7 separate regions of the Homo sapiens genome follow, and all the other regions are linked to region 2. Evidence: fine-mapped expression QTL. A gene starts in region 2. Each other region holds a variant in brackets. All regions are shown on one strand. Distances are between the middles of the regions. Region 1 overlaps MVB12B (multivesicular body subunit 12B). Region 2 holds the start of MVB12B (multivesicular body subunit 12B). Region 3 overlaps MVB12B (multivesicular body subunit 12B). Region 4 overlaps MVB12B (multivesicular body subunit 12B). Region 5 overlaps MVB12B (multivesicular body subunit 12B). Region 6 overlaps MVB12B (multivesicular body subunit 12B). Region 7 has its middle 30 kb from the start of MVB12B.

Evidence for each region. PIP is the estimated chance that this variant, and not a neighbour inherited with it, causes the effect.
Region 1: its variant is fine-mapped to the expression of MVB12B in whole blood (INTERVAL, PIP above 0.99). The same link has a PIP of 0.9 or more in monocytes after LPS.
Region 3: its variant is fine-mapped to the expression of MVB12B in blood mononuclear cells (TOPMed, PIP above 0.99). The same link has a PIP of 0.9 or more in whole blood.
Region 4: its variant is fine-mapped to the expression of MVB12B in whole blood (TOPMed, PIP 0.98).
Region 5: its variant is fine-mapped to the expression of MVB12B in esophagus mucosa (GTEx, PIP 0.98).
Region 6: its variant is fine-mapped to the expression of MVB12B in lung (TOPMed, PIP above 0.99).
Region 7: its variant is fine-mapped to the expression of MVB12B in whole blood (INTERVAL, PIP above 0.99).

The regions. Positions count from the first base shown.
Region 1 is chr9:126,452,965-126,456,964 of GRCh38, forward strand. All of the region lies in intron 7 of MVB12B (multivesicular body subunit 12B), which reads left to right. Among named protein-coding and RNA genes, the nearest start is that of NRON, 44 kb to the left of the region's middle. The variant A/T (reference allele first, on the strand shown) is at 1,613.
Region 2 is chr9:126,324,362-126,328,599 of GRCh38, forward strand. It overlaps MVB12B (multivesicular body subunit 12B), which reads left to right and starts at 2,468. Exons shown (of 10, transcript NM_033446.3): 1 at 2,468-2,649. The coding sequence starts at 2,569. RefSeq lists a silencer at 2,453-2,592 and an enhancer at 3,034-3,685.
Region 3 is chr9:126,442,997-126,446,996 of GRCh38, forward strand. All of the region lies in intron 7 of MVB12B (multivesicular body subunit 12B), which reads left to right. Among named protein-coding and RNA genes, the nearest start is that of NRON, 34 kb to the left of the region's middle. The variant A/G (reference allele first, on the strand shown) is at 1,557.
Region 4 is chr9:126,390,200-126,394,199 of GRCh38, forward strand. It overlaps MVB12B (multivesicular body subunit 12B), which reads left to right. Exons shown (of 10, transcript NM_033446.3): 5 at 1,867-1,996. Among named protein-coding and RNA genes, the nearest start is that of NRON, 18 kb to the right of the region's middle. The variant C/T (reference allele first, on the strand shown) is at 2,172.
Region 5 is chr9:126,411,069-126,415,068 of GRCh38, forward strand. The region is part of intron 6 of MVB12B (multivesicular body subunit 12B); the gene reads left to right. Among named protein-coding and RNA genes, the nearest start is that of NRON, 2.6 kb to the left of the region's middle. The variant A/G (reference allele first, on the strand shown) is at 2,113.
Region 6 is chr9:126,346,230-126,350,229 of GRCh38, forward strand. The region is part of intron 2 of MVB12B (multivesicular body subunit 12B); the gene reads left to right. Among named protein-coding and RNA genes, the nearest start is that of MVB12B, 21 kb to the left of the region's middle. RefSeq lists an enhancer at 512-1,472. The variant C/T (reference allele first, on the strand shown) is at 2,136.
Region 7 is chr9:126,294,223-126,298,488 of GRCh38, forward strand. No RefSeq gene overlaps it. Among named protein-coding and RNA genes, the nearest start is that of MVB12B, 30 kb to the right of the region's middle. The variant G/A (reference allele first, on the strand shown) is at 1,946.

The sequences.
Region 1 (4,000 bases), 130 kb after region 2:
TGAGGTTTAATTTTTAAAAGCTCTGGACTCAAGTCCCAGCTCTGCCCCCGAGACAAGCCCCTCACCTTCTTTGAGCTTCAAGTCAGTCTTCTATCAAGAGGGGCTGAAAATGCCTGCCTCCCGGGATTGTGGTAAAGACTAATTAAGAGAAGACTTGCTGAAAGTGCTTTGTCAGCTGTGAAATATGTGAGAAAGATAAAATCCCTATTTCTTCAAGTTCAGCGGGTTTTTAGTGAGCATCTATTTTTGCCAGAAAACCCCACAGACGTGCCACCTCCCCGTGAGCATCCCCACCCACCCCAGTGCATTGTCAAGGACACATGAACTTGTCAACTGGGTGAGCAAGCAGGGGAGGGGTGAAAGGTCCAGCTGCAAGCAGGGAAGCAGCTGAGCACCCGGAGCAGACCAGGGCCTGGCTGGGCAGAAGGGACTCCCAGAGCTCAGGAGTGTTGCTGTTTGCCCCTTCTCCCTTCTCAAGTATGGAGTTTTGTTTTCATACCTGAGGTTGGAGGTCCTAGTGACTTCTTTCTGCCTGTGTGGGCTGTAGAGGAATCCGTTGCCAACAGCAGTGGCCTGTGTATCACCGGCTGCTTCCTGGAAGAGGTGTTCATTACACAGGCTCAGCCTCTGCTTGCCCATGAGGCTCTTGCGGTTTCTTTCTTCTCACTATGCCCCTTCTCACATGTGCATAACTCGTACATGGACACAATCTCACATGCGTTACGTGGCACATGCATACACTCACGTGTGGCACACTCTCACGTGTACATACATACCGTGTGCATGGTCTTGCATGTGACACACAGCCTCACATGCATATGTGCACACATGACACGTGTGCATGCTCACATGTGTGCACACATGACATATACACAGGTGGCCTCCCCTCCTCTCTGGATCATCAAGGATACCATCCAGATTACCTTCCAGGGCTGGGACAAGGGCTCACCAGGCCCCAACAGGGCAAAAGACAATGAGAGAGGCAAGATGGAAGTCTGGTGTCCCATCAGGGAAAGTCTAAGTGAGAAACAGACGCGGTAAAGCAGAGAGCACCGGGAGACAGGAGAGGCATGGACCTCAGAGTCAGTGCCACCACCACCTGCTAGCACCTCCCTTTGGTCCCTTCAGCATTTTAAAACCTGCTTTCTGTACTGAGAAATAGGCTTTCTTCTTTTATTTTCAAACTTCAAAGATCAGTTTTGAAATAAAGTTTTTTCTGATGGAATTCCAAAGGTTTTACACATGTGTGAAAGGAGAAGTTTGGCTGTTAAAATGTGTTCACCCTGCCCCTTGCTGCCCTGACCCACCAGGGTCCCACCGTGCCTCCACTTTGTTCTCCTAAATGCTGCACCAGCTCACAACCACCAATAGTGTGTTGTTCCAGCCTCTTTCCTTCATCCCCCTAATTCATTTGTGTTCAGCTAGAGCCTAGTGGGGCAGAATTGATTTTTTTGTTAATGGGAAGAAATGTTTCCTGTGTAGGCATTGTTTACCACTCTGCAGCTAATCCCATTGAGCCTCGGGCTCAGTAAGCGGGACACCCAGGTGGCCTGGGGCTGGGCGAGTAGAAAGGTGGCCCCTGGTCTTAGCCAAAGGAGTGCCCTATTCAAGC[A/T]TCAGGATACATTTGCAGTGGCCAGGGGTATGGACCTTGCATTTTTTAACCCCTGCATGGCTTTAGCCCCATAAAGACCCAACTAAATAAGTGAGATGGAAGTGAATGTTTTCCTCTTCTTTTTCATTTTACTTTTGTTAAGCACTGCATAATGTGCATGCCACGTAATACAGTGAATAGCCTTCTGGTAGGGGTCGATGACCATAATTGAGTTTTTTTTTTTTTAACCAGCCAGGAAAATGCTTCCTTAATCAATGTTCTTTAAATGCTTTGACACATGGTAACAACACACCACAGAGATGCACGTGCCGCTCTCCACCAGACTCCACTGATAGGAATACTGGGCAGCCCTTTCTTCCCTTCCCTCCTGTGAGCCTGTGGGTGCGCAGGGCAGCCACTCCGGGGATGAGCGAGCATGCACCATGATGGCGATTCCAGGAAGGATCTTGAACCACGTCCTGGCAGGGCTACCTGGGCCAAAACCCTATTTCTAGGCCCCTTAAAGGTGAGCGGGCTTCAGCTCTCTCCCCAGTAAGACCCACAGCTCCCAGTAAGACCCTGCGAGCTGGCTAGAGGTGAATTTATTTTATTTTATTTTATTTTTTATTTTATTTTATTTTATTTTATTTTAGATGGAGTCTTGTTCTGTCGCCCAGGCTGGAGTGCAGTGGCGTGATCTCAGCTCCCTGCCACCTCCGCCTCCCGGGTTCAAGTGATTCTCCTGCCTCAGCCTCCCGAGTAGATGGGACAACAGGCACGTGCCACCACGCCCAGCTAATTTTTGTATTTTTAGTAGAGACGGGGTTTCACCATGTTGGCCAGGATGGTCTCGATCGATTTACCTCGTGATCCACCCACCTCGGCCTCCCAAAGTGCTGGGATTACAGGTGTGAGCCACCGTGCCTGGCCCTTATTTTATTTATTTTGAGACAGGGTCTTTCTCTGTTGCCCAGGTTGGAGTGCAGTGGCAAGATCATCACTCACTGCAGCCTCGACTTCCCAGGCTCAGGTGATCCTCCCACCCCAGCCTCCTGAGAAACTGGAACCACAGGCGTGTGCCACCATGCCCAGCTGATTTTTTTGATATTTTATAGAGATGGGGTCTTGCCATGTTGCCTAGGCTGGCCTTGAACTCCTGGGCTCAAGTGATCCAGCTGCCTCAGCCTCCCAATGTGCTGGAATTGCAGGCGTGCAAACCACTAAGCCTGACTGAAGTGGGTATTTGAGCCTCTAATGCTCCCTGTTACAGTTTTGCTGTCGTGGTGGTTCTAAGACAATAAACTTTGATAGGTCGTTTTCTTTCTTTCTTTCTTTTTTTTTTTTTTTTTTTTTGAGACGGAGTCTTGCTCTTTTGCCCAGGCTGGAATGCAATGGTGTGATATCGGCTCACTGCAAACTCCACCTCCCAGATTCAAGCAGTTTTCCTGCCACAGCCTCCCAAGTAGCTGGGATCACAGGTACCCGCCACCATGCCCAGCTAATTTTGTATTTTTAGTAGAGACGGGGTTTCACCATGTTGGACCTGGCTGGTCTCAAACTCCTGACCTTAGGTGATCCGCCCACCTTGGCCTTCCAAAGTGCTGGGATTGCAGGCATGAGCCACCACGCCCCGCCTGATAGGTTATCTTGAACATCTCTTCCCAATACAGTAATTAGACCTTAAATGTTTTTGTTGGATACTTACCTCCAAGATATTCCCAAATCTCCAAATTTAAAAATAGCTCTTTCGCACACGATTTCTCCCACAGAATGTAGTAATGTAGATATGAAACATTCAGGTGAACTTGTTAGAACTAATGGTTCTATAAATAAAAACTGACATCATTCATAAAGTTATTTAAATAAATTTTGTCACTAAAATAAATTTATATGTTACATCATTGCTAATAATGATTTTAACTGTGAGTTTTCTTTTTGTAAAAAAGAATTGAGCCAAGCCCCAGGGTTTTTCTAACAAGCTGACGGGATACTTGGCTGGGGTTCTCATCCTGCCCCTCCCTGCTTCCAGCTCAGATACTCGGAATATGGTTGAAGCCTGACTGAATCATAAAGACTGCCTGAGAGTGGGAGAGGAAAGGATCAGTTACTCTTTGGCCACCTTGAACGCGCAGCTTCCTTTTCCTCCTGGGATATGGGGTCTGAGGCATCTCCTTCCTAGAGGCCATGTCCATCTGCATTGCAGGGTGTTCTGTGCAAGAGCCATGCTCCCCTCGAGTTTCTTCAGCTGATCTAGTAATTACTTCACCAGCAGCAGGCTGCTGATAGCGCCCCTGTTTAACTTCAGTTTATAAAAGAAAAAGTAAGCGTCTTACAATTCTGGAACCTCCTTTCCTCTTGGGAGTCTACGTATGGGCCCCGGCTTCGTCCTGAAGCAGTGTCAAGAGTCCT
Region 2 (4,238 bases):
AGAAGCATCTATTCTTGTCCACTTTTTCCAAACTCACTCATCTTCCCTTAGAGTGGAGAGAGGCCAGAAGTCTTATTCTAATGGAAGTCCCTCTATATGGAAAAGAAGGCTTCTCCCTTCAATACCATAAGACAGGGTAAGGAAGAAAAAAAAGAATAATAATAATAATAATAATAATAATAATAAGAAGAAGAAGAAGAAGAAGAAGAAGGAAGGAGAAGGCTTCTCCCTTAACATTTAGGAAAACCATTGATTTTGGTGTTTATCTTATAACTGACCACCTTACCAAAGTCTCTATGATTTTTAGTTGATTTTTTTTATTTTTACTTTTTGGGAAACACTTAAATCATAAGCAAATAATGACAATTTTATCTCTTCCCTTCTAATATTTATATTTCTTATTTATTTTTCTTATCTTATTGCATTGGCTTTATTCTATAGCCATTATAGCAGGCATCCTTTTGACTGACTTACATGAGAATACCTTTAGTGTTTCACCATTAAATATGTTTGTTGATGGCTTCTGATAAACTTTGTCATGTTAAAAGTTTAAACTTTCTTCCTATAATAGTTTACTAAGAGTTTTTAGAAATTTATGGGTCATTAGTTTTGAAGTTTATAAAATACTTTTAAAGCATCTATCCCATTGATAATATCCTGTAATTTGTTTTCCTTTAACAATGCAATGCATTTACAAATTCCCTAATGTTGGATTTTTCTTGCGCCTCTGGAATAAATCTTGCTTGATCATGGTGGGTTTTCAGTTGCTTTAATAGTAAACTGGATTCAAATGGCTAAAATTGTATTTAATAGTTTTACGACTATTATATACTTAAATATATAGTGCAGATTCACATATTGAGGATTTATCAGTGAGCTTTAGAAGGTGGTCCTGGCTCAGATGAGTTTGGGAAATGCCAGGTTAAACAAACCAAACAGGTTTCTTTACTCCTGGACTTCACAGAGGCCTTCCTTAATATACGAATACTTATCGTGATTCTCCAAAAGGTACACTATAAACGGCATGCAGCACTTTCTCAAGTTGCCCACAGAAGCCCATTTTCAAAAAATAAATATTAAATTCTCTGGGGACTCGTGTTCTAGGTTAGTCATCTGCAGTTCTTTTTGGTATTGTCTGTTGGATTTTGGTATCAGGGTTATGCTAAACTTGGGAAATGAAATAAAAATTTTTGTTTCTTTTGTTTATTTTTTCCTGTGTAACAGTTTAAGTAACATAGGGATGATCTGTGCCCTGATGGGAGGATAAGGCTTGCTGTAAAGCCATCTGAACCCATGGCATTTCTGAGTAGTGAAGACACTGGGAATGCACACGTGCATGGCTTCCCTACAGGATGTTTCCCCCGACAGCCCATTCTGCTTGGCACCCTTCTCTTTAGGATCAAACAGCTATTATGGAAAAGCCTAGAATGTGTGAAAATGAGACTCAATGCATTAGCAAATCAATGCTGATCACTCCTGCATGGTCCTCAAGTCCTAACGAATGCTCCAGCCTCCTGGCAGGAAACCTTTCAAATCTTGCACACGCTGGCCTCTGCCTGGGGTGCCTGGCTGGGCGGTGTGGGGGGCATGGTTGGTTAAGGCGCAGAGTCCGCCTTTCCTACCAGCCACTCTAGCTGAGGGTCAAGCTCTGGACCCTCCCCCAACCATCCAGCTCCATTTTATCCTTGGCTTATGCCTTCCCCAAGTACTGCAGGGTAGGACTCCTGCTAAAAACTTCTTCTAGATGCTTGCCTGAGGCTGGCCCCATAAACCTGATTCTAGGCTTCTGGGGATAAATCATCTAACTAATATAAGAGAATTGCTAGGCAATTGGGGTTAGTTTGAGACGACTGGCTGAGCTCACCTTAGGTGAGCTGGGGGGTGGGGGAAGATGAGCTGAAGGATTCTAGGGTTCAGTGAAGCCTAGAATGGCTGGGTGGGCGGAGAGTCCTTAGAAGGGTCCAACTTCTAGCCTGAGGGCCTGGGGGCTTCCAGGGATCTGCAGCCGAGCGGAAGACCGGTCTTGCGTACAGCGAGGCCTACGAGAGCTAAGTGGGCTGAGGGTCCCTGGAAAAGACCAGCCTGGGGGCGGGGACCATCGATGCCCCAGGCTCTAGAGGCCGTGGGCTCCCGGGGGCCTGAGGCTGGACTGGGGTCGCCGGCGGGCTCGGGGAGGCCCGGGTGGGCGCACCGGGGCCCTGCCTGCGGCTGACGGGCTGGGTCGAGGGGGAGGCTGGGGAGGCGGGGTGCCGGCCGGGGCGGCGGCGCGGGCTCGGGACGCCAGGGCTCCCTCTCCCTCCTCCCGCCCGAGCCAGCCTCGGGCGCCGGGCGCCTCCCCCGATCCTGAACCAGCGCCAGCGCCGGGAGGCCCGGAGCCCGGCCCGCCGCCGCGGCCCGCGGAGGGAGCCGCCGCCGCCACTGCCGTTGTCGCCGCCGCCGCCAGGCCGCGCCCCGCCCCTCCGCCGCCGCCGCCGCCGCCGCCGCTCTCGGTGAGGCTCGCGCTCGAGCTGCGGCGCCGGCTCCTGCCGCCTGGGCCCCGGGCCCGGCCCCTCCCGCGCCGCCCGGGCGATGAGAAGCTGCTTCTGCGTGAGACGGAGCCGGGACCCGCCGCCGCCGCAGCCACCGCCGCCGCCGCCCCAGCGGGGAACAGTTAAGTGAGGCCCGGGCGCCGCGGAGGCTCGGCGGAGCCGGCCCTGCAGCCGGGAGGGCGGGCGGGCGGGCGCGGGCCCCCGGCCGAGGGGCGGGCGGACGGGAGGAGCCGGGCCGCGCCGAGGCCTGCGGGCTCCGTGCCCGGCCCGCGGCGGGGACAGGCCCGGGCGGCCTTTGCAGAGCCCCGAGCGCGCCGCGGCTGCCGGTGCCCGGGCTCGGCCTGGCGGCGAGAGGCGGGAGAAGCTGGGGGACCCGAGTGCCAGCAGCGCCCCCAAGGCCCGGGCAGGTGAGGGGCGCCGAGAGCCACCTCTGCCCGCGTGAGAGGGAGGCGGCCCACCTGGGCACAGACTGGGAACAGTCAATCGTTTGACCGGCCTGGCCTGGGGTCCTGCTCTCTCTGGTCACGTGGGTGCAGACCAACGTGCACCTGCCCCAGGAGCATCACTGCCTCTGTGACCTGGGCACAGCAGAGAGGACACCTAAACCCTCAGGCACCTGTCTGGAAGGTGACATGCCCAGCCTGGGTACCCGAGACCCAGAGCACCCATCCAGGAACATGGTGGGCACGTCGAGCACCCTACAGTGACTCCAACACCAGCGAGACGGGAGGAGCAGGGGCTGGGACAAGAGCTGAGGCATGGCACCAGGGGACATCACATCCTCAGAGGCAGGCACCAGGGAACGGGGTAGACCCAAGAGCATCTTTTGTCCTCTTTGTTACCAACACACAACTGTTCTAAATCAGCAGCCCTTCTCACCATGAAAGATGAGACTCTTCTGTTCCCTGCCCCTCAACACCTCTTGCACAAGGCACTGAGGAAGACCACAGGAGGGCAAAAGGCAAATGGTGGTTGCCCCTTCCCTGCTTCCTGCCCCCACCCAAGAACCAGAGCCCACTCCGATTGCTGCCACAAAAGCAGACAGCAGACCAGCTCCTCTTAGGGGCCTTTGTCTCTCGTGGTTCCTTCTCAGTATAATCTCATTGTACATTTCTCGACAGCTGGCTGGATCTCATCTCGTTTTAACAGGGCTGGGAAATCTTATCAGCGGCACCAGGAAAGCTTAGAGAGTTAAAAAATAAGCTCTGTGAAGCCTTGACTAACTGAAAAACTCAATGTGCTAGGATGTTTAGTTACAGTAGATGGTGACACCTTTCTTGCTTGTTAGAAATCATGTGGGGTCCTTGGAGATACTGTACCATGCTCAGAATCTTTAAATAGGGCCTCAGAGAGATGAGGCTTCTGCTTGGGACCCGGGCTCCAAGCCCCATGGGAAGCAGTTGACGTGGCGATTACTGGTTCATTTAAACCTAAACTTACCTTCTGTAATCCATATTTTTCATTCCTTCCTTCTAGGCTTTAGGTCACACTCCTAATTTAGGTTCAAGGCATTTTTCTTGCCCTGTCTCCATCCTGCTAGGGACCTTTTACCACTTCCAACTGGAATGTTGTGCCATGGTTATGTGCAGGGAGTTTAGAATTAGCCCTCAGCTTAAGTCTTGGCTTTCCTACTTACTTTGTGCCCTTGGACAAATTATTGAACTTTTCTGAGTTTCAGTTTCCTCATCTGTAGAGTGAAACTAATGATAG
Region 3 (4,000 bases), 120 kb after region 2:
ATCTGAGACATCAGGCACCTTCCTAGAGTCTAGAAAACACTGGTGGCCGATAATGTCTGTAGCTTTTCCCTGTGCAGAATTTTATCTTCAACCCATCAAGAGTTTGTGTCCTCCTGGGGTGTTTGGGAGAGCTCAGGGATTTTGATGGGTGTTCAGCACAGTGGAAGTAGCACTACTTTCTGGGGTTTAAGCCCCATTTTGACCATTTCCAAACATGGGACCGTGATTCCTTTCTCTGGAACTCAGTTTGCCTAGCTGCAAAATGAAGCTGTTGGACAGGGTGGACCTCCTGTCCCTCTATCCTTCCACCAATCATTGAGGGCCAGGCACCCTGCAGGGGCTAGAACAGGTGCCTTGAGAGGTTTTGCCTCAGGGTAGGAGGGACTGAGGTTCCAACTGAGCATGACCCACCCGTCATTTCCGGTAAGAGCCTGATAAAAAGTTTGTTCCTAGACCAAACAGTTCATTGATATTTCTTCCTCTTTTAAAAAATAAAAAAACAGACACAAAGCTTTTCTTACCTGAATGATAAAAGTTACATGTTCATTGTAGAAAAGTTACAAAATATATGAAAACATTGGAAAGAAAATATCACAACCCCATTACCCAGAGAAACAGTATTTCAGTGTATGTCCTTTTAACACTTTTTCTATGCCATATGTTTACACTTAAAAGTGTATGTCTACCTAATTGTCCATTCTGGGTTCTTTTTAAGTCAGATTTATTGAAATATATTTACATGTAATAAAATCCAGGCTTTTTATGTGCACATTTCAGTGACTTTTGACCAATGTCAAACTACAGGATAGCCGCCTCCAGAAACAAGATACAGAATATAGCCAGGAGTCCCATAAGTTCACTTGCCTCCATTTCCGGCCCTTCCCTCCCCATCGCCAGTCCCTGGCAGTCACTTGCCTGCCCAGTGCTATCATATACATGGACTCATACAATATGTAGCTTTGTGTGTCTCTCAGCATAATATTTTTGAGAGTCTTCCATGTTATTGCATGTATCAGGAATTTGTTCCTTTCCAACACTCCAGGTGTCTATTCTGCTTTGAGACCTGTTCATGTACCTCGTTCCTTGTCATTAGGTCAGGTGGTCGTCAGGCTGGGATTAATGGTTGTATCATCCTCCCTCTTATGGATACAATGTACTTTACCTAGCCAGTCCTCAGTGGCTGAGTTTTTACATTATCTTCATTTCTAAAAGTTATACTTCGGTGAATGTTCCTTTAAATAAATATATAAACACATTTTTAATTATTTTGACATATAATGACAAATTGTCCCCCGTAATGGTTGAATTTGTTTACACTTCTGCATGTATGAAAGAGGTTTGTTTGGTTTGGTTTTCCACACAAGACTTGCTAACTGGTAATTTTTTTTTTTTAATTTTTATCAATTGGAAGGTGAAGGGGTATTTTATTGTTAATTTACATTTCTTTGATTACTGCTAAGGTTGCCTGTGTTGAGCCACTTGTGTTACTCGAGACCTTTGCCTGTCTGTCCGCAGCATCTCTTCCATTGCAGTCTTAATTTTGTTTGTGGAGTTGC[A/G]GGAGCTCCTCTTGCAACAAGGCCTTCTTTTGCTCTCACATTACTACCGCTTGTTTCCAGTTTCTGCTTTGTACTTTCATTTCATGTTTCCTTTATGTTTTGTGTCTTTGCCATCACGTTTTAGAAAAGCCTTCTCGGTTTTCTGGTATATTCTAGTACCTTCATTTTTTTTAACATTTAAATCTAAAGTTCTGCTGTGATTTGTTTTGATGTGTGACAAGATAAGAATCTATGTTTTTCCAAATTATTTATTATTGTCCCAGCATCACTTGTTAAATAATCTTCTTTTAACCAACTCATTTGGAAAACAATCCTATAATAACCTCTTACTGTGATGTATTTTGTGGCCTGTGTTGTGTTCCATTGAGTTGAATGCATATTCCAATGGGAGGGTCACGCTTTTAATAATTATAAATGTATGTATTTTAATTTCTTATCTTACTATTCTTTGTAGTTATTTTTCAGAATGTTCCAGGTAATAATAACTTTTTTACCCAGTAGAAATTTAGAATCACTTTAAGTTCCAAGGAAAATACTTTGAGGATTTTGATTGAAAAAAACATTGAAGTTATAAGTCAATTTGGGGAGAGTGGTCATTTAGAAAAATATCCAATCTTTCCTTCCAGAGATATAACTCTCTATTCAAATGTCTTTGTATATTATTCAGTAACATATTATAGTTTTCTTTGCTTTCTGTTTATATAATTCCTAAGTTTTAAATTTTGTTGCATTACCCATTATGTTGGTTTTGGTTTTTGTTTTGTTTCTTTTTGAGACAGGGACTCACTCTGTCACCCAGGCTGGAGTACAGTGGTGCGATCTCGGCTCACTGCAACCTCCGCCTCCCGGGTTCAAGCAATTCTGCCTCAGCCTCCAAAGTAGCTGGAACTACAGGCACCCACCGCCACACCTGGCTAATTTTTGTATTTTTAGTAGAGACAGGGTTTCACCATGTTGGCCAGGCTGGTCTTGAACTCCTAGCCTCAAGTGATCCTCCCCCTCGGCCTCCCAACGTGCTGGGATTACAGGCGTGAGCCACCGCACCCAGCCTGCATTGCCCATTATGTTTTCATTGGTGATTAAATATTTAATTTAATATTGTTGGGTCTTTTTTTTTCTTTTTTAGAGATGGGGGTTCTCACTGTGTTGGCCAGGGTGGTCTCAAACTCCTGGCCTCAAACAGTCCTCCCACCTCAGCCTCTCAAAGTGCTGGGATTACAGGCTTCTGCCACTCCACCTGGCCCTGTTGTTTTTTTTAATCTTCATTTGGTAACTGGCCACCTCTCTGTATGCTTGTTATTTCCAATAGCCTCCAGTTTATTTACTGGGATTTTCTTGGAAGACAACATCATCTGCAAATACAGATCATTTTGTCTCTTTGATAACATTTATACACCATTGGTTTTTCTTGCTTTGTATTTTTGGCTAAAACATTGAAAGCAGTGGCAGTAGTTTTCATTCTTACCTGGTTCCTGACTTTAATGGGAATGCTTCTAGTGTCCCATGGTTAAGTCTGATATAGATTTGGGGGAATTTGGAGGAGAGAGGGCTTGATTGTATTAAAGGACCCATTCTCTATTCCTATTTTCCAAAGATTTTTTTTTTAATAAATTCAGGCACTAATTTGAGTTTCATATAAAAAAATTTGGAATATTTTAATGTAGTATAATATTTTTTCTCACTTATTGACAGATACAGATTATTTTGTTTTGATGATTTAGCATTTAGAAAGTTATTGTTATATTTCTGAAATCAATCTTTATTATGGTGCATTCTTCTTTAAATATAGTACTAGATTTGAGCCACTGCTATTTAAGTTAGGATTTGGGCATTTATATAAGTAAGATTAGGCTTTTTGCTTATCAAAATGTAATTTTTGTGTGATCTAAGTTTTTTTCAAATATAAAAATATTTCTAAAATATTTAAATGGCTGTTCATTTTGGGGAAAAAAGAACACCAAAAAAAAAAAAAAAAAATCCTGTCTGAACTATGTGGACCTGGAAGCTAGGGGCATTTTGAGGAGATGGACAACTATTTCAGTTTCTTTCAGCATTAGTGATTTTTTTCAGGCTTTCTACTTTTTCTTGAGCCAGTTTTATCATGTGTATTTTTTTAAAGAAAATATAGCAATTTCACCTAAATTTCATCTAAATTTTAAAGTTTATTGGTACAAAATTTTACTTAAGAGTTTGTATTTATCTTAAAATTAATATACCTATAGTCATATATATCCTGATGTTATTTTTCTCTCTCTTTTTCTTGGTTGATTTATTTGCTTTATTTGTCTTTCCAAATAACTGCTTTTTAAATTTATAAAGCCATTAGACTTTTGCTTTATACTATTTAATAAATTTTTATCTGTATTAGTTCTTTTTTTTAACTTTCTTTTTTTTTTTTTTTTTTTCCTTTGAGACAATGTCTCACTCTGTTGTCCAGGCTGGAG
Region 4 (4,000 bases), 66 kb after region 2:
GGTAAGATCCCACACAGCTGTTCTTTACTGAGCACTTACTGTGTGCCAGGCACTGGGCTAAGTGGATCATATGTGTTGGCACAGTGCATCCAACCCACATCCCTGTGGGGTGGGTTTCATTAACTCCCTTTTACAGTTTACCAAGACTCAGAGAAATTAAGTAACTTGCCTGAGGTCACAGTGCCAGGAAATGTTGGTGTTGGGATTTCAACCCAGATCTGTCTGACTCGTGTATTAAATGGCCGCAGTTGGTTGAAACTCAGGTTTAAAAGCACAAACAAACACACACCTCCCGTTGGTCAGCACTGGAGGTTGCTAGAGCACCAACTCCTTACTCTAAGGCTTGATAAGTAAGAGAAAAGAATCACGTGCTTATCCTTTTTTTCCTATACAAAACTTATTTCAGGGAGACCAAATAGTTGATGAAGGAAAGTTATTTTTTACATATAGAAGGATTCTAGCTAAAAAATGCAGAAGGAGGCCAGGCGCGGTGGCTCACGCCTGTAACCCCAGCACTTTGGGAGGCCAAGGAGGGTGGATCACGAGGTCAGGAGTTCAAGACCAGCCTGACCAACATGGTGAAACACCATCTCTACTAAAAATACAAAAATGAGCCAGGCATGGTAACACGCATCTCAGCTACTCAGGAGGCTGGGGCAGGAGAATCACTTGAACCCCGGAGGTGGAGGTTGCAGTGAGCCAAGATCATGCCACTGCACTCCAGCCTGGGTGACAGAGTGAGACTCCATCTCAAAAAAAAAAAAAAAAAAGAGCAGAAGGAATGACAGAGTTCAAAAATCACCATTGTGAACCTTTAATAAAACATGGATCTTAGCAACAGTCATCAGAGGGTGAGAAAGTGCTCAGAGGATGGCAGTTGGGGAACTGTGTGACCGAGGTCCTGGGCCGACGCCAGCAGAGCTCAGCAAGAATGGCCCAGCCAGACTCTGGGCCTCACTATATGACAGCCTAGACTTACGTGTACCCCGGACGGCGTGCATGCCTAAAAAACCTAACCTGAGTCTAATCGAGGCTTTAGCTCTGCCAGCCTACAGGAGGCACAGGGGAGTGACCCGATTTCTCCAACCTGTTAGTGCCCTGAAGAAAAGGGAACAGGAGTGGTTGTTCCAGAGTCAAATGATCTGGGAGGCCTGACACCCAGAGGCAGTGTTTCAGCATCCTGGGGATCCAGATGCAGACAGACTGGAGAAAACGTGGATGTAGACTCTCTGTTGGATGATACTCAGGAATTCTGTTCGTTTTGTTAGGAATGGTGATGGCATGGTGGTCTTTAAAGAACAGTGTCCTGGATGCCTACTGAGGTATTGATGGTGACATAACGTAGTGTCGTCAGGGATTCATTTTAAATATCCAGCAAAACTGCAGGGGTGGGAGGAGAGGAAACCAGCTTGTCCATTGTGCACAGCATTGACACTGGGTGACGGGAACACGTGGATTCATTCCACTGTTCTCTCTGCTTTGGGGTATGTTTGAAGATTTCTGTAATAAAAAGAAAAGAAGTCCGTGTGGTGAAATGTGTTAATGCTCAGGGCGTCAGTGTGCAGGTTTCTGATGGCTGAGCAGTGAGCAGATTGTGGTTGCGGCTCTTAGAAGCCACCCAGATTTACTGCAGGGTGTGTGGTCCCCTTCTCAGCAGGGGGTGTCTGGGTTGGGTCCCACATGCAGAGCAGGGTGACTGCAGCCCCGGGGAAGGCAGGCGGCAGAGCGCAGCCCTTCTGTCCAGCAGCTTAGGTGACCTGCCACTTCTGCTGCCAGGAATAGGGCGTGACAGGGGATGTGGTTTTCAGAATAGAGATTCTGGTATCTCTGGAAAACTCATACCTTTTCTATTGTCCTTTCCTTCAGAGGAAGTGGCTTTTAGGAAGAAGAGGCTGTGCATTAAATTTATTCCACGGGATTCAACGGAAGCTGCGATTTGTGACATTCGGATCATGGGCCGGACCAAGCAGGCCCCGCCTCAGTACACGTTTATTGGGTGAGTCTTAATAACAGGACTGTCAGCTGCTTCTCTTCCCTGAGAGCACTCAGGCCACTCCAGGCAATGAGGTCCAAGAGATTTCCATGCAGCCCCCCAGGCTCTCAGCCATGGGCCTCTGTCAGCCCAGTGCTCCTCGCTGCCCTTCCTGCTCAGCTGCGGTCTCTCTGAGCCT[C/T]GGCTCGCACTGCTGACTCCACCTTAGGGCCTTTCCTCCCCTGCCCTTCTGCGCATTCAGCCTTGAAGCTCCTCTGGGTCCTTCCCCGACACCCTGTGATGCCACTGGCCTCAGCTCTTCACACTCGTTATTCACCCTAGGAAAGGTCACAGGGACCTATTTTGTACCACGGGGCCAAGGCCACTGGATGTGGATATAAGTGAGGCAAAGGCCGTGCTGTCACAGAGCTGATGTTCTAAAAGGGACAGACGAGCAATAAACAAGAAAATAAATGAGATAATTCCAGACAGTGAAGAAAGTGAAACACAATGATGGAGTGGGGGCCTCTTCCGTGAGGGGGTCAGGAAGGTGACACTTGAGCAGAGACCTGAATGTCAGGAAACCAGCCATGCACAGATGTGAAGGCATAGTCTTTGAGGCAGAGCAGAAGCAGAAGGAGAGAAGTGGGAATGAGCATGGCACGTTCTGGGAGCAGAACACAGCCCTGTGCAGCTGGAAGAGCCAGGGACAATGTTGGGACAAGGGCGAGGGTTGGCAGGACCTCCTAGGACATGGCCTGGAGTTTATTCCAAGCACGCTAGAAAGTCAGTGGAGGGCTCCAAGTCAGGAAGAAACATAAATATTACACAGCTGCATGATAATTCCCCAGTAAGCAGAGAACTGCTGAGGCCTGGGCCCGTTTGTGTCTTGTTCCTCCAGCAGCCTCAGCACTGAGCATGGGCCTGGCTCTGTTGCAGCTCCATAAATACTTACTACAGTGAAATCCCAGGGTTTCACTTAGGGCTCTGTTGATTGTAAGTGACAGGAAACCCAACCCAGTTTGGCTTGAGCAAAAGGAATAATTTATTGGCTGGCATCACAGAGGAGTTGGGGAGGCAGGACTGGCATGCCTGGAAGCGGAAGCTTGAAGGCCGGCACTGGGTTCTGGTTTCCCTGTCTCCCCCTGGCTCCGGTGCTGGGCTCTGTTCTGACATGTTTCCCCCTCGAGGAGGCCTGGTGCTACAGTAGCTCCACCTGCTTTTCATCCAGGTTCAAGTCCAGAGGCCAAGAGCAAGTTTGTGTTCCTGACAGTTCAAAAGAAGTTCTAGAATTTAGTCTCATTGGTCTTGATTGATCTAGGTAGGGTCATGTGCACCCTGGGCTTGTCACTGTTTTCTGGAAAATTCTTCCATTGACCAGGCCTGAGCAGGAAGTAGGATCAGCTCCATTGGAACTCAAGGACAAACCACGACTGGTGCTGCTCCTAAAATATGGAGGGGCAGTCAAAAGTCAGAAAGGGGGTGAGTGGATGCCAGCTGTCCAGAAGGAAATAGATGTTCACTGTCTTCAGTCAACTGAAATCCAGGTGTGCACTTTACTCGGTGTGGCAGATGGTTTACAGCCCCCTCAGCCATGTGCGTCTTCCCTGGCCAGGGCTGGCAGGGGCCATGTGTTTCCCTGTGGGCTCCCAGAGGCACCCTGTCCTCCTCGGCTTCTGAGGCCAGCCTCCTGGCTCAGGCCTGTACTCTGCTTTACTCTTGTTCATTTGAGCCCAGAGCCGCCTTTGTATCAGCCAGGGCCTTTCTGATAGCCTAGACCCGGTGAGACAGCAGATGAGCCCTCGTGGCATTTGCTTGAAGCATGCAGGGAGCAGGTACCACAGAAATGCAGAGTTTCACCTCGGTGGGTGTTCAGCTCTGGCATCTGAATGCTCTGTGTCAAGATCATGTGGTTAAGAAGGACTCTGTGATCATTCCCTTCCTACACACTCAAAAATCCCGTTTTGCAACACGGTTTACACTAATTATGTAAACAGGACTACAGGAGTAGGAAATAGTTAGAATAAACAT
Region 5 (4,000 bases), 87 kb after region 2:
AGTAGAAACGGGGTTTCACCATGTTGTTCAGGCTGGTCTTGAACTCCTGACCTCGTGATCCACCCGCCTTGGCCTCCCAAAGTGCTGTGATTACAGGCATGAGCCACCACACCCAGTTATTTCTTTTTCATGCCACTGTTTTAAAATTGAAGCATATAACCATATTGTCCTTTATGGCCTATCTTTTGATATTCAGAGCTTTTACTTTGTGATATAGGAGATTTATGTTCGTGTTTCAGTTGACTTATGGATAAATTCCTAAAGGGGAAGATACACGTTTCATTTGGTTTCTTAAACTGTCTCGGTGCCAGGCAGTGCCTAGCACACAGTAGGAGCACAATAAAAAAAGTGCGCTGAGTCAGTCGCCACATCCTAATTATAGCGGCCTTGTGTGCCTGTTGATACTGGTCCAGCTCCCCTGGCATGGGCCTGTGTTCACTGGGTAATACTTGGAATTAAGTTTTAGGTCTGGGCATAGAAGGTTTATAAGATAGTGAATATAACTGTAGAGGAAATAGGTCTCTTTTAAGTTTTACAAAACCTTACTTGTCTTGGCTTGTGTCAATTACAAAACGAAACAAAAAAGAGACTCATCAGACCGTGACAAATGATAGTAAACTTTGCGCATGGTGGTTTCTCCCTGAGGTTGGCTCCAAAATCAATATGAAAAGAAAACCACAACTGAAAATATTTTAGAGCCTAGAGTGATTAAAATAACTGACTTTCTGTTTTAGCGGAAACAAGTTACAAGAAAGAATTACAATATCTCCTCACATCTCTGGGTCTTCACAGATCTCAATCGTAATTCAGAGCCTCACTTGGGAAACACAGGGGACTTGGAGCAGGAATCCTGGCTGTGAAGTCATTGAGGAGGATTCGAGTGTTAGTCAGGCCCTTCCAGCTGAAAATGATTCATTTTAATTACCTTCCAGGGTGATCCGATACCTGAGCATATGGTCTTTAAGAAATAAGGTTCCCCAAACTGTCAGCAAGTGTGGGCAATGGTCAGGGACCTCTTTCTGACACCATTGACCAGCCTTGGAGAGCGGGCGCTCTAGAAGGTGCTTATTAAAATGCCAGCAGGTGCAGCAAAGGTCCCCTTCTCTGTGACTCCCGCACCCTGCTTGTGCCAGGTGTTTTATAAGAGCCTTTTTCTTCATTAAATGGCATTCATTAAGCACGTCCTTACACCTGGCACAGAAGCTGTGCGTCACAGATGACTTCTTCCCAGTGGTGTTTGCAGGAATAATGTGGAATTTCATTTAGCCATTTGCTGTGTTCTTCTTCCCCTTCCTATCTTAACTTGATTTTTGTTGCTTTTCATATTTCTTCTGCTGCCCCCACAATCCATTCCTCTCCTTTGTACATGACCTCTGGTCTTTGTCCACCAGCAGACACATTATATAGAAAACAAGGTGTCCCTTCAGCACCAAGCACCACCACGCTGGATGCTTTCATACGTGTGTCTCTTCTACTCTCCCAACCACATTGAGAAGTGTTCCCCTAGTTTTTGCCATCTTTTTTTCTGATTAAAAGAAATAATTTCTCATCCAAAAAAATTAACACTTAAAACATATGGAAGAGCAGTGGGGAGAATCCACACTCCCATCTTAGAGGCTTCTGTCGTCAATACCGTGAGCCTCTCCTGCCCCTCAGTCACCTCTAAGTTACTCCCTCCAGCCCTTTGCTGTACTGTAGCTTAGCCGTGTGTGCCCATGGAAAAAAGATTGTCTTATGGGATTGTTTATAATACATCATTCTGCAACTTTGTTTTTGCTTGGCTGGTTTTTTGGTTTTGTTTTACTTAACAGCCAGTCTTTGGGAGTTGGGCATTTCTACAGAAAAATCTCTGGCTCTCTTCATCTATTCGTTCTGTCCTACTTTAGTATTATATGAAAATTCCACATTTTATTAGCCTCCTCTTATTGATGGTCATTGGGCTGCTCCCAGTTCATTGCCATGACAAATGCTGCCCCAAGGCCCTGGTTCCTGTCCTTTCCTTCCACAGCTGAGATCATATTCCATACACAGATCCCGAGCATCTCACTCCAACCCTCTCCACAAAGCCTGTAAACATCATTTTATGTCTGCATAATATTCTGAGTCAGACAT[A/G]GTAACATTATTTCCAGTTTTTGAGTAGACCGTCATAATTAAGAGCATGAATTGTGTAATTGGCCCCATCAGCATTCAAATCCAAGCTTCTGCATACTCTGTGTTCAAGTCCAAGCTGTATCCAGCAGAGAGGCAAGCTGTGGAGCCTCTCTGAGACACCTGTGGAGTAGGGGGGGTCTCAGCAACTCGCCGTAGGATTGGGTTAGGGATCATAAGATGCATATGACAGGTACACGCTGTAAACAAGTCAACTGATGATATTTTTAAATTTTCTTAAATAGGTCATTTCCCACATTTCAGGTTCTTTCCTCAAATCTCAAAAAGGGAAGAATAAATGCTGGTCCTTTTGTCGCATTACTTCCCCTTTCTTAAGTATTAAATTTGAATCATCTGGAATGTATTATTAAGTGTTTCTCCTAGAGAAGGTGACATGAGTAATCTTCTGTTGTCTTCCTGCACAAAAGACAACTTGAAGTCATACAAAATTGCTGAATCACAACTATTTTCACCTTCAAAACTGGCTGCGTCGTCTTCCAGCATTTAGTATGGCAGAGGAAAAGTCTGAAGTCACCATCAGTATTTGCCAGGATGTATCCTCTTTTCATTGCATTTTCTGGAATCCTGTGAACCCCATTGGTTGTGTGTGTGTGTGTGTGTGTGTGTGTGTGTGTGTATAAGGGTTGGGAGATCAAAGTGGCAGGTGCCTCTGACTATGAGTGCGCCTCTGCCTTGCTAGTCACCACTCTCTCGACGCTGCCCTTTGACAGTCTGGGAGGACAGCAGGCACTGCAGCTGCCTGGGCAGAACCATCTTCATTATATGTGGCCACTGGGTCTACAAGATTAATGGTAACATTTTAAAAATTCACACAGACCTGGAATCAGCACTAGAAAATACAGATTTAAATTAACAAGGAAAAAGCAGAATCCCATCAAAGGAAATAAATCGTGCTGGCAACTATTGTCTCATAATAAAATATATTCTATAACTGAAGGGCTTTTATATGGAGCTGTCTGCAGCTTAGTGGCCATGTTAATTGAATAAGGTGCCTAAGACTGACTTGGGGGAAAAAATGAAATTCCCCTCAGCATGTATTTAGCTGGAGCCGTCATCGCTGGCAGTGCGTGCTTGCTGACCTGTTTGTTACAGAACAGCCAATCCCTCCTGCAGAGAGACGTGATGGCCACCAGAAGCAGCAGGGTGAGAGCCCTGTCTCCTCCGGGCAGTTCCGTGGGCAGGGGGAAGGGGAGGATAGCTTGGTAACACTCCCCGAGGATTTAGGGACTGTTCCAGTTACAATTCTCCAGTGACCAAACAGATTTTGGAATAATAATCCATCATTTGAGTCAAGTGGCAGACATGGTTGTCCTCTGATGGACAGCCCTTGCTCCAGGGGTCCAAGACCTACTGGGGAAGGTGCCAGAAGGCCTTCACCTCCTGGCACTATCCTAAGTAGAGACAGTTTCTCGAGCCTTTGAGTCTCCTTCTCCTCAGTCTGCTGGGGAGCTTTATGAACTCTCCTAAAATCTAAACTCATGGATCTGCCTACAGAGTGGTCAACTTCGGGCCCACTAAAATGACTCCACTGAAACTGCTGTCCATAAGTGCACCAGCCACCATCATTCTCGTGGACCTCTCAGGTTTTTTTTTTTAATTTTTATCTATTTATTTATTTTGAGACTGGATTATAAAACTGGCTAATTTTTGTTTGTTTGTTTGTTTGTTTTTTGGTAGAGATGGGGTTTCACCATGATGCCCAGGCTGGTCTCAAACTCCTGGGTTCAAGTGACCCACTCGCCTCGGCCTTCCAAAGTCCTGGGATTATAGGCATGAGCCCCCACTCCCAGCCGGCCTCTCGGTTTTGTTTGATGCTGTCGAGTACCTACTC
Region 6 (4,000 bases), 22 kb after region 2:
CGTGCAGAGTGAGAGCTAGAGCCTGCGCCAGGCTATTGACAATGGACATGTGAAGCAGTACGTGGATCCTGGGGCTGTGGGAGCGTGGGACGTGGGAACCCAAATATGTATTTTTGATGGCAAGAATGGGTTGAATGTTGGGAGGTGGGGGAGTAGGGAGGAAGGGGAAGGATGAGAGTGCCACAGGATGTCTTGCTGGCCATGGGTAGATGCTGGGGTTCTCTGCTGGGACAGGAGCAGAGACAGCCAGGTCGGGTGGAGGCGGGAGGGAGACTCTTGGGTCAGTTTTGAACACCTTGAGTTTGAGCTGCTTGTATGACATCTAGCGGAGCCCTGGGGCTGAAGGTCTGGAGAGAGGTCTGAGCACCATCCTCATATAGCAAGGACTGCGGGCATAAGTGGGCTTGTCTAGGGAGGGTTGTGGGACTAGAAGAGAGGGTGTGCCATTTCAGACTCCACTACCGTGGAGGGTCACTGGTTAAGGATGGGTAGAAGAGGAGGCACTCAAAAGGGGACTAAGCCTGAGCATCTGGAGAGGTAGGTGGAAAATTAAAGAAAACTAAGGGGAAAAGTGTATTTCTGTAAGAAGGAGTGGTGAGTAATGTTCAAAGTTGCCGAAGTGAAAGGAGCCTGAAGGGTGTCCATTGGGTTTAATGCAAGGAGATGGTTGTGAACTTGGTGGCAAGCTCAGAAGCAAGGTTAGAGTGGACCTGCAAGGTAAGTGGGAGGTGACAACGAGAGGTTGAGAGTGCAGATGGCCTTTGAAGAGGGGAGGCCAGGGCATAGCGGGAGCTAGAGGATGCCATGACCCCAGCTAGAGGATGCCATGACTCCCTTTGTTAAAGGTAGGAAAGTGTCGAATGTGTCTAGTTACTGATGAGAAGGAACCAAAGAAAGGGAGGGGTGTAGATACAGGAGAGAGGGGCTGGCTGATGAGGCAGGGCCCTTGAGGGGGCAGAGGAGTTGGGACCCAGAGCCCAGTCTGAGAGGGGCACCGGGTCATGTTTCTTTAGCCCTTGCCCTGTCCTGCCCCTGCACGCTGGGAAGCCAGCCTTGGGCTCGGCCTGTGCGGGCAGCACATGGGCCAGCTGCCCTGGGAGTCTCCACTTCCCCTTTTTTGCTGCTCCTGCCTCCCCCCATGTCTCTTTCTCTCAACACTATTTATTTCTGAAACTAATTAGACAAAAGAACCTTTTTTAAAAAAACAACTGGACCTGTATAATTTATATATGCCCAAAACGTAGTAGGAATTTCCTGAATACTTGGAGTTTCAAATGCTTGAATGCAAATATGCGGGACTATGGGGGTCCTAGGAGAGGTCTGCTTCTCTCTGGGCCAGTGGGCTGGGTATAGGGAACATAGGGAGGGATAAGTTTAAAATCCCAAACCTCCAAATGAGGTCCTATTCTTTTACTTACTAAAGTAAGAGAAGGAAAAAGAATCTCAATGGTGATACAAGTTCAAACAAGCTTGCATTTTTATATAGTGCTCAAGGAATTTTTAAAAATCACGTTATGAAAAACATGTGAAGATGGCAACTATATCTTGTTAAAAACATATGGCAGATATCAAGTGGAAATGTGGGACATTGGCATATCCCGTCTGAGCACAGCTGTCACATGGATTTTCAGAAAGCCGAAGCTGTGGTGGGGGGCCTTTCAGGGGGCAGGAAAATTGCCCTCGTTCTCCATGGGCTGGAGGATAGCGGCAGCCCAAAGCCTCAGGCAGTTAGTTGCCCCTCCTGGAACTCTGCCTCCATGAAGCCAATGAGGAAACAAGGGCAGCAGCTTGTTCTTGCTGTCCCAGCTTCCTGAGCACAGGGCTTTGCTATCGTGGGGCTACTAACTGCAGAAATAACCACAGACTTTGAGTCCTGCCACACAGATTGGTTTATTTTCAAAACCAGAGCTTGTTTTGATAAAAGGCACCAGGTGTTCCTCCTTTTTGTTTTGTTAGAAAATACATTAAGCTGAGATTTACTGAAATGCGGAAAGTGGTTTTTGTAACTAGCCCTGGGCCTTTGTTCCCTGTGGCCTGGATTAGCAAACCTCTTTTAAGGTCCTTCCCTCCACATTCCCCTTTGTCCTGCCGCACCCTGGCCCCAAGGGAGCAGAGCTGTGGTCTGAGAGAATGCA[C/T]GTGGCACACTTAGCACAGTGCTGGCATCCACGAGGTGTGCAGGAGGCAAACATCAGCTATCGTTAGGTGATCCTCTTAGAAATAGTGGCTTAAAGCACCTGGTTGCAGAGGAGCTGGTCTTGTTTTCTTCTAGGCTTCCCTTCCCTGCTAACCATGAATTTTTCGTTTTGACCCAAAGTTCCCGCTAATGACTTGTTCCGTAGTTGATTCATTTGGAAAGTGGTAGGGAACAGGCAGTGTTCTGGTACTTCCTTCTGTTTGCTAAAACTTCCTAATTCCCTATTTAAAAAGCCTTCTAATAATGAAACGTCAATTAATTGGATGGTTGAAAAAAGACGAGGCGCTTGCTTTAATTTTTCTTTCTTTTTTTTCAGTTAAACTTTTTATTTTGAGACAATGGTAGACTCACATGCAGTTGTAGGAAGTACTACAGAGAGATCCTGTTTACCCCCCACCAATGGTAAAGTCTTGCAGACTAGTACAATGTTACAACCAGGATACTGACATTAATACAGTACATTAATACAGAACATTTCTGTTTTAAAACGTGCCCAGGTTTTTGTTTTTATTCATATATGATGTGGCCAATAAATGAGGAGAGGATTGCCACTGGAAAGATTATTACTCGCAGTTCCCAAGAGGAGCAGACAGGCCACACCCTGTAGGGCCACCTGGGGAAGCACAGGTGGGGAAACATAGGTGGGGAAGCGTGGGGTGTGTCAGGAAGCACAGAGAGCCAGGGAGAAACGAGCCAGGAAGGGCAGTGTCAAGCAGGGTGAGCACAGTTAGGATTGATTAAGTTTGAATAATTTTGGCAGGTCCTGGGGTACATGGGTGAGTCCCTCATTGTCAGGTACCTGGCCCTGGGGTGATTTAGGGCAGGGGAATCGTGTCCTGGACTGCAAGAGCCCGTGAAAGCAGGCAGATGGAGATAAGAACTCAGTATTGGTTGGTTTGCATATCCAAGGCATGCACACAAGCAAGTCATTCACCTAGGAGGGGCAGTCCCTCCCTGCTTCTGCAAGACCTCAGGATATCAAAGCCTCATAAAATATAGAAAAAACCTGCCAAAATACAATTTCTATCACCATAAGGATCTTTCATGTTGTCGTTTTATAGCTACACTCACTTCCCTTATACTACCACCTTCTCCTTAACCCTTGATAGCCACTAATCTGTTCTCCATTTCTATAATTCTGGCATTTGAAGAATCTTATATAAACGGAATTATAGTATGTCACCTTTTGGAATTGGCTTTTAAAAAAAACTCAGCATAATTCTCCTGAGATTCATGCAGAGAGTCTATTGTGTGGGTTAATAGTTTATTTCTTTTTACTGATAAATAGTATTCCATGGTTTGGATATCCCACAATTTGTTTAACCATTTACCCATTGAAGGACATCTTGGTTGTTTTCATTCTGGAGCCATTATGAATAAAGTTGCTATAAATACTCAGGTGAAGGCTTTCATGTGGCTGTGTTTTTATTCCTCTGGGATAAATATCCAGGAATGCATTTGCTGGGTCACATGGTAGTTGCATGTTTAGTTTTTAAATAAAATGTTAAACTACTTTTTGGTGTAGCTGTAATGAATATATGAGGATCCAGTTTCTCGACATCTTTTCCAGCATTTGTTATCGTCAGTATTTTTTTGTTTTAGCCATTCTGACACGTGCATAGTGATAATTCATTTGGTTTCACACTGTATTTCCCTAGTGGTTAATGAATGATGTTGAACATCTTTTCATGTGCTTATTTGCCATCTGTATGTCTTCCATGAAAATTTCTTCATGCCCTTTACTCATTTTCTCATTGGATTGTTTGTTTTTTTTACTGTTGAGTTTTAAGAGCTCTTTGTGTATTC
Region 7 (4,266 bases), 30 kb before region 2:
ACCAAGAAGCTGGGTTCCATTCATTCATTCATTCACACATGCATGTGTTCTTGTATCTACCATCATATAGGCCTCACGGAGATAAGAAATAAACCCGATCCTGCCATCCAGGGGTGTACTGTCCAGTAGAGGAGGAGGAAAGGGAAGGGGCAGGAGCTGGAACCAGCATTTATGGAGCGCCTGCTGTATGCCTCACAATCACCCACTGAGGGAGGTACTTCCCAGCCCATTTTATAGACAAGGAAACTGAGACTCGGGGTGAAGCCACCGGTCCACATTCTCACAAAGGGCTCCAGCCCCGGGGGCAGAAAGGTTTCAGAGTGACAGAGAGCAGCCTGAGCTCCTCCAAGGGTAATTTCAATCCTTGTCTTCAGGCCCAGCAAGGTTCTGAAGTTCCCAGAAAGGATGAGACCCTGGGGGATTGTCTGAGGGCCCAGCGCTGCCTCCCCCTCAGCTGTGATTAATGCCTGACAGTCCCTCCACTTGCAGGGAACTCATCAGACTAATATTTCCTGATGTGAACTCCGTGTCGCCCTCGAATGAGAAATCCCAGCCCCTTCACCTTCCGTGCCCCAGATGAATGGGCTCCCATCCCGAGTCCCGTGAATGATGCAGCCCACATCTGCAGAGGGAGCTCGATAAAGACCCTTTATCAGCAGAACCATGGCTCCCCATGGCCAGCCATCGGACCCCAGCTCCCCTGTCACGCTACTCCCCTGGAGCTGACCCTGGACTGCCTGCCAGAGACAGGGAGGCAAGGTCAGTGCCTAGCAGATGGGAAGAAAGGGTTCCGTAAAGGAGGGATAGGCCTTCTCCAGCCCTGCCTCCCATAGCTGGGACTCTTGAGGATCAGAGGGAAGGGGCGGGGTCTGCCAACATTTTGTGGTGAGCCCAAGGAGGGCGTGAGCATGTGGCCAGGCTAGCATCAGATGCCTGCTGAAGGCAACCTAGAACCTCCAAAGTTCTGTGGAGTGGAAATGGAGGGTGTGGAACCAAGTGGTTCTAGGAACAGAAACACCAGTGGTTGGTCTAGTGGTAAGAGAAAATAGAAACGATACCCAGTATCATGTGTTGAGTGCTCGCCATGTGCTAGGCATGGTGCCAAACATCAATATGCATTGTTGCCCCTGATCCTCACAGAGCCTCGTGTGAAAGGAGGTATGATCCCCTTTTACAGGAGAGAAAAGTGAGGCCTAGAGCAGTTAAATGATACTCTGAGTGGAGGTGTCAAGATTCAACCTTAGATTTCCCTAGCTTCCAAGCTGTGCTTTTAGCTATTCATCATGCAGACATTCAACTGCTATTTGTAAAATGCCATCTTTGTGCCTAGCATTGAGCCAAGTGCTGGGACTACACAAGGCAAACATGGTCCCTGTCCTCCTGGAGCTTGCAGTCCTGTGGGGAGCTGACCTCCCACAAGGGGACTGTGGTGCTTCAGTGAGAATGTGGGTGAGGCCTGGGTGCTCAAGGAGAGTCTCGCCAAGGAGAGGGAAGCACCTTATCTTGCCCTTAGCACAGTGCTTCCTAGGGAGAAGCCAGTCCAACCCCTAGTGTGGGTCCTGAGAACAAGTCCTCCTTGAGGTGGCCAAAGGTGGAAAGAATCCAGGGCTGAAAGTCAAAGCACTGAAGGCCAAAGCCAGGAAAAAGAGAGCAGCCATCCTGCCCAGCAGGTGCCCATGGGCTGATGGCAGAAGTGGAGTTGGAATGTGGATGGGACAGAATCAACCAGAAGGAAACCAGGGGTCTCCTGCTCGAAGGGGGCGGCCAGAGCTGTGTGGACCCTGGCTGTGGGGCAGCTTGGGCTGGCCTCCAGATGGAGACGGAGAAGATGGATGTCCACACCCGAAAGGGATCTCCCCGCTGAGGGTGCCCCCCGCCCCGACCACAGGATATACTTGGAGTCAGGTACACAGCAGGTGATCCATCTGTGGGAGGCCCCGAGCCA[G/A]AGGCTCAGGGAGCAGGTGTGACTCAGGGGTGAGCTGGCATGCGTGATGAAGGCGGCTCAAGCCCCAGACAAGCAGCGTGGGTTCCAGCTCAAGCTCCAGGCCCTGCAGGAAGAGGGACAAGGGTAAGAGCCAGATCTAAGCAGACCCACAGCCAGAGCGGAGGGTGCTAAGAGTAACATTGAAGGTCACCTGCCGATGGTGCTGTGGCCAAGCGGCCACTCTCCAGTCAGTAAGGGTGGGCCTGGGGCTCCCACTGGGAAAGGCAGGGTAGGCAGAGCCACCCACCCACGCCTGGGGCTGCCAGGAGCTGGAAGTATGGGGTGGGAAGAGCCTAAGCCCTGGCTGCAGAAAAGCTCGTCTCTCCCCTGCATTTTACCTGTAGTTTGGCTCTAGGACCTCATCGTGTGCAGTTTCCTGTATTGTAAAGGATGGACACATCATGCCCTCTGACCTGCTCCCTCCCTGAGCCCCACCTGCGCAAGGCTCCACCCTGTTTCTGAAGCTGCCTTGAACCTGACCCTCAATTCATCCTTGACCCTTACCCTGTCCCTGACCCCATTCCTGAGCCTCACTCCATCCTGAAATTTCTTCCATCTCTGGGCTTCAGCCCCTCCCTGTCTTTTCACCCCTTCCTCAGTCCACTCCAGTTCTAAGCCTCTCTCCTCCCACATCTGGTTACCCCATTTCTGACTCCCGCTCCAACCCTGCCATCCCACACCCTACCCCAGATCCTTCCCCATCCTTCCCGCCCACACTGCCTCTGGAATGGGGTTGGGATTCAGCAAGGCTCTGGGAAGAGAGAGGAAGGTATCTGTTGTTCATATTCCTTATAAATTATTTCAAAGCTGACCGGGCGCGGTGGCTCGTGCCTATAATCCCAGCACTTTGGGAGGCTGAGGCAGGCACTTGAGGTCAGAAGTTCGAGACCAACCTGGTCAACATGGTGAAACCCTGTCTCTATTAAAAATACAAAAATTAGCCGGACCAGGTGGTGGGGCCTGTAATCCCAGCTACTCGGGAGGCTGAGGCGGGAGAATCACTTGAACCTGGGAGTTGGAGATTGCAGTGAGCCAAGATCGTGCCACTGCACTCCAGCCTGGGCGACAGAGTAAGACCCTGTCTCAAAAAATAATAATAATGATTATTTCAAAGCTGAGAGGTTCCTGTTTTCTTTGGGTGGGGGGGGGCAAAAAAAAACAGGTGGGAATTTCAAAATCCACTTTATAAAACAGGTGGGAATTTCAAAATGACCTCATTAAAATGCCAGATATAGTATCAATCCATAGCTTGAGACACCAGAATAGTGGTCCCCCTTGTGCGAGGAGGGAGGATTGAGACTGGAGCAGGACACAGAGGGAGGGGGACTTCTGGGGGCGAGTGATGTGGTTTCTGGAGTTGGATGTTGGAAACACAGGTGTATTCGGTTGGTAAGATTCATCAAGCAATATATTTATTATTTGTGCACTTTTCGGTATCTATGCTATACTTCAATAAAAAGTTTTTCTGTAATGCTCTGTAGCCTGGGCAGATTGGACCCTCAGGGCAACAGAGCTGGCTGCTGGGTCCCTGTAGCAGTGGGGTCATGCCACGCTGGGGGCACGCCACCCTGGGGGCCTTCGGAAAAGCAGAGTCTGGTTCTCTGCTCCCAGGACGGTTTCATCCCAACGGGATGCTGACGAGGAGCCCCCACCCGCCCTCTGCTCAGCCACACACCCCATTGTCCTCTGGGACCTTGCCTTGGTGCCAGCTGCCTTTCCTACCCTAACAGCTGTATTTTTCAGGTACAATATGACAGGCTCAATCTATTCCTGTTATATATTTCCCAGTAAATGGACAAGGTGAAAACAGTGTCAGTTCAAATCACTATCATGACACTTAATTCTGATTTACTGTACCTTTTGCTGCAATCTTGAAAGTGCCTGCATCTGTGGTGAGCTGGATCGCCCAGCCAGGCCCCACGGGGTCGACGTTAAGATCAGCTTCAATAAAAGAATTTAGGGTAAGGCAGCCCCAGGTGGGTGGGGGGCAAGCTGGGGCCCAGAGGACCAGCCAGCGGAGACGCTGAAGCTGCTGCTCTTCCACACCTCCCTCCCTCGACTCTTTGTCCCCAGCCCTGTGTTTGCAGCAGCTGGGAAATTTATGGAGGCTCCATAAACGGGTTTTACAGACAGCTGTTAGAGCGTGCGGAGCAAGGCTTGGCTGTCGGGGGACCCAGTCGCAGGCTTACAGCCAAGACACTTAAATATTATGGCCCCACATATATAAAAAGTGTGCTGCGCACATCCTCAGCTGCCTCCCTCCTCCTGACCCAGGAGCACGG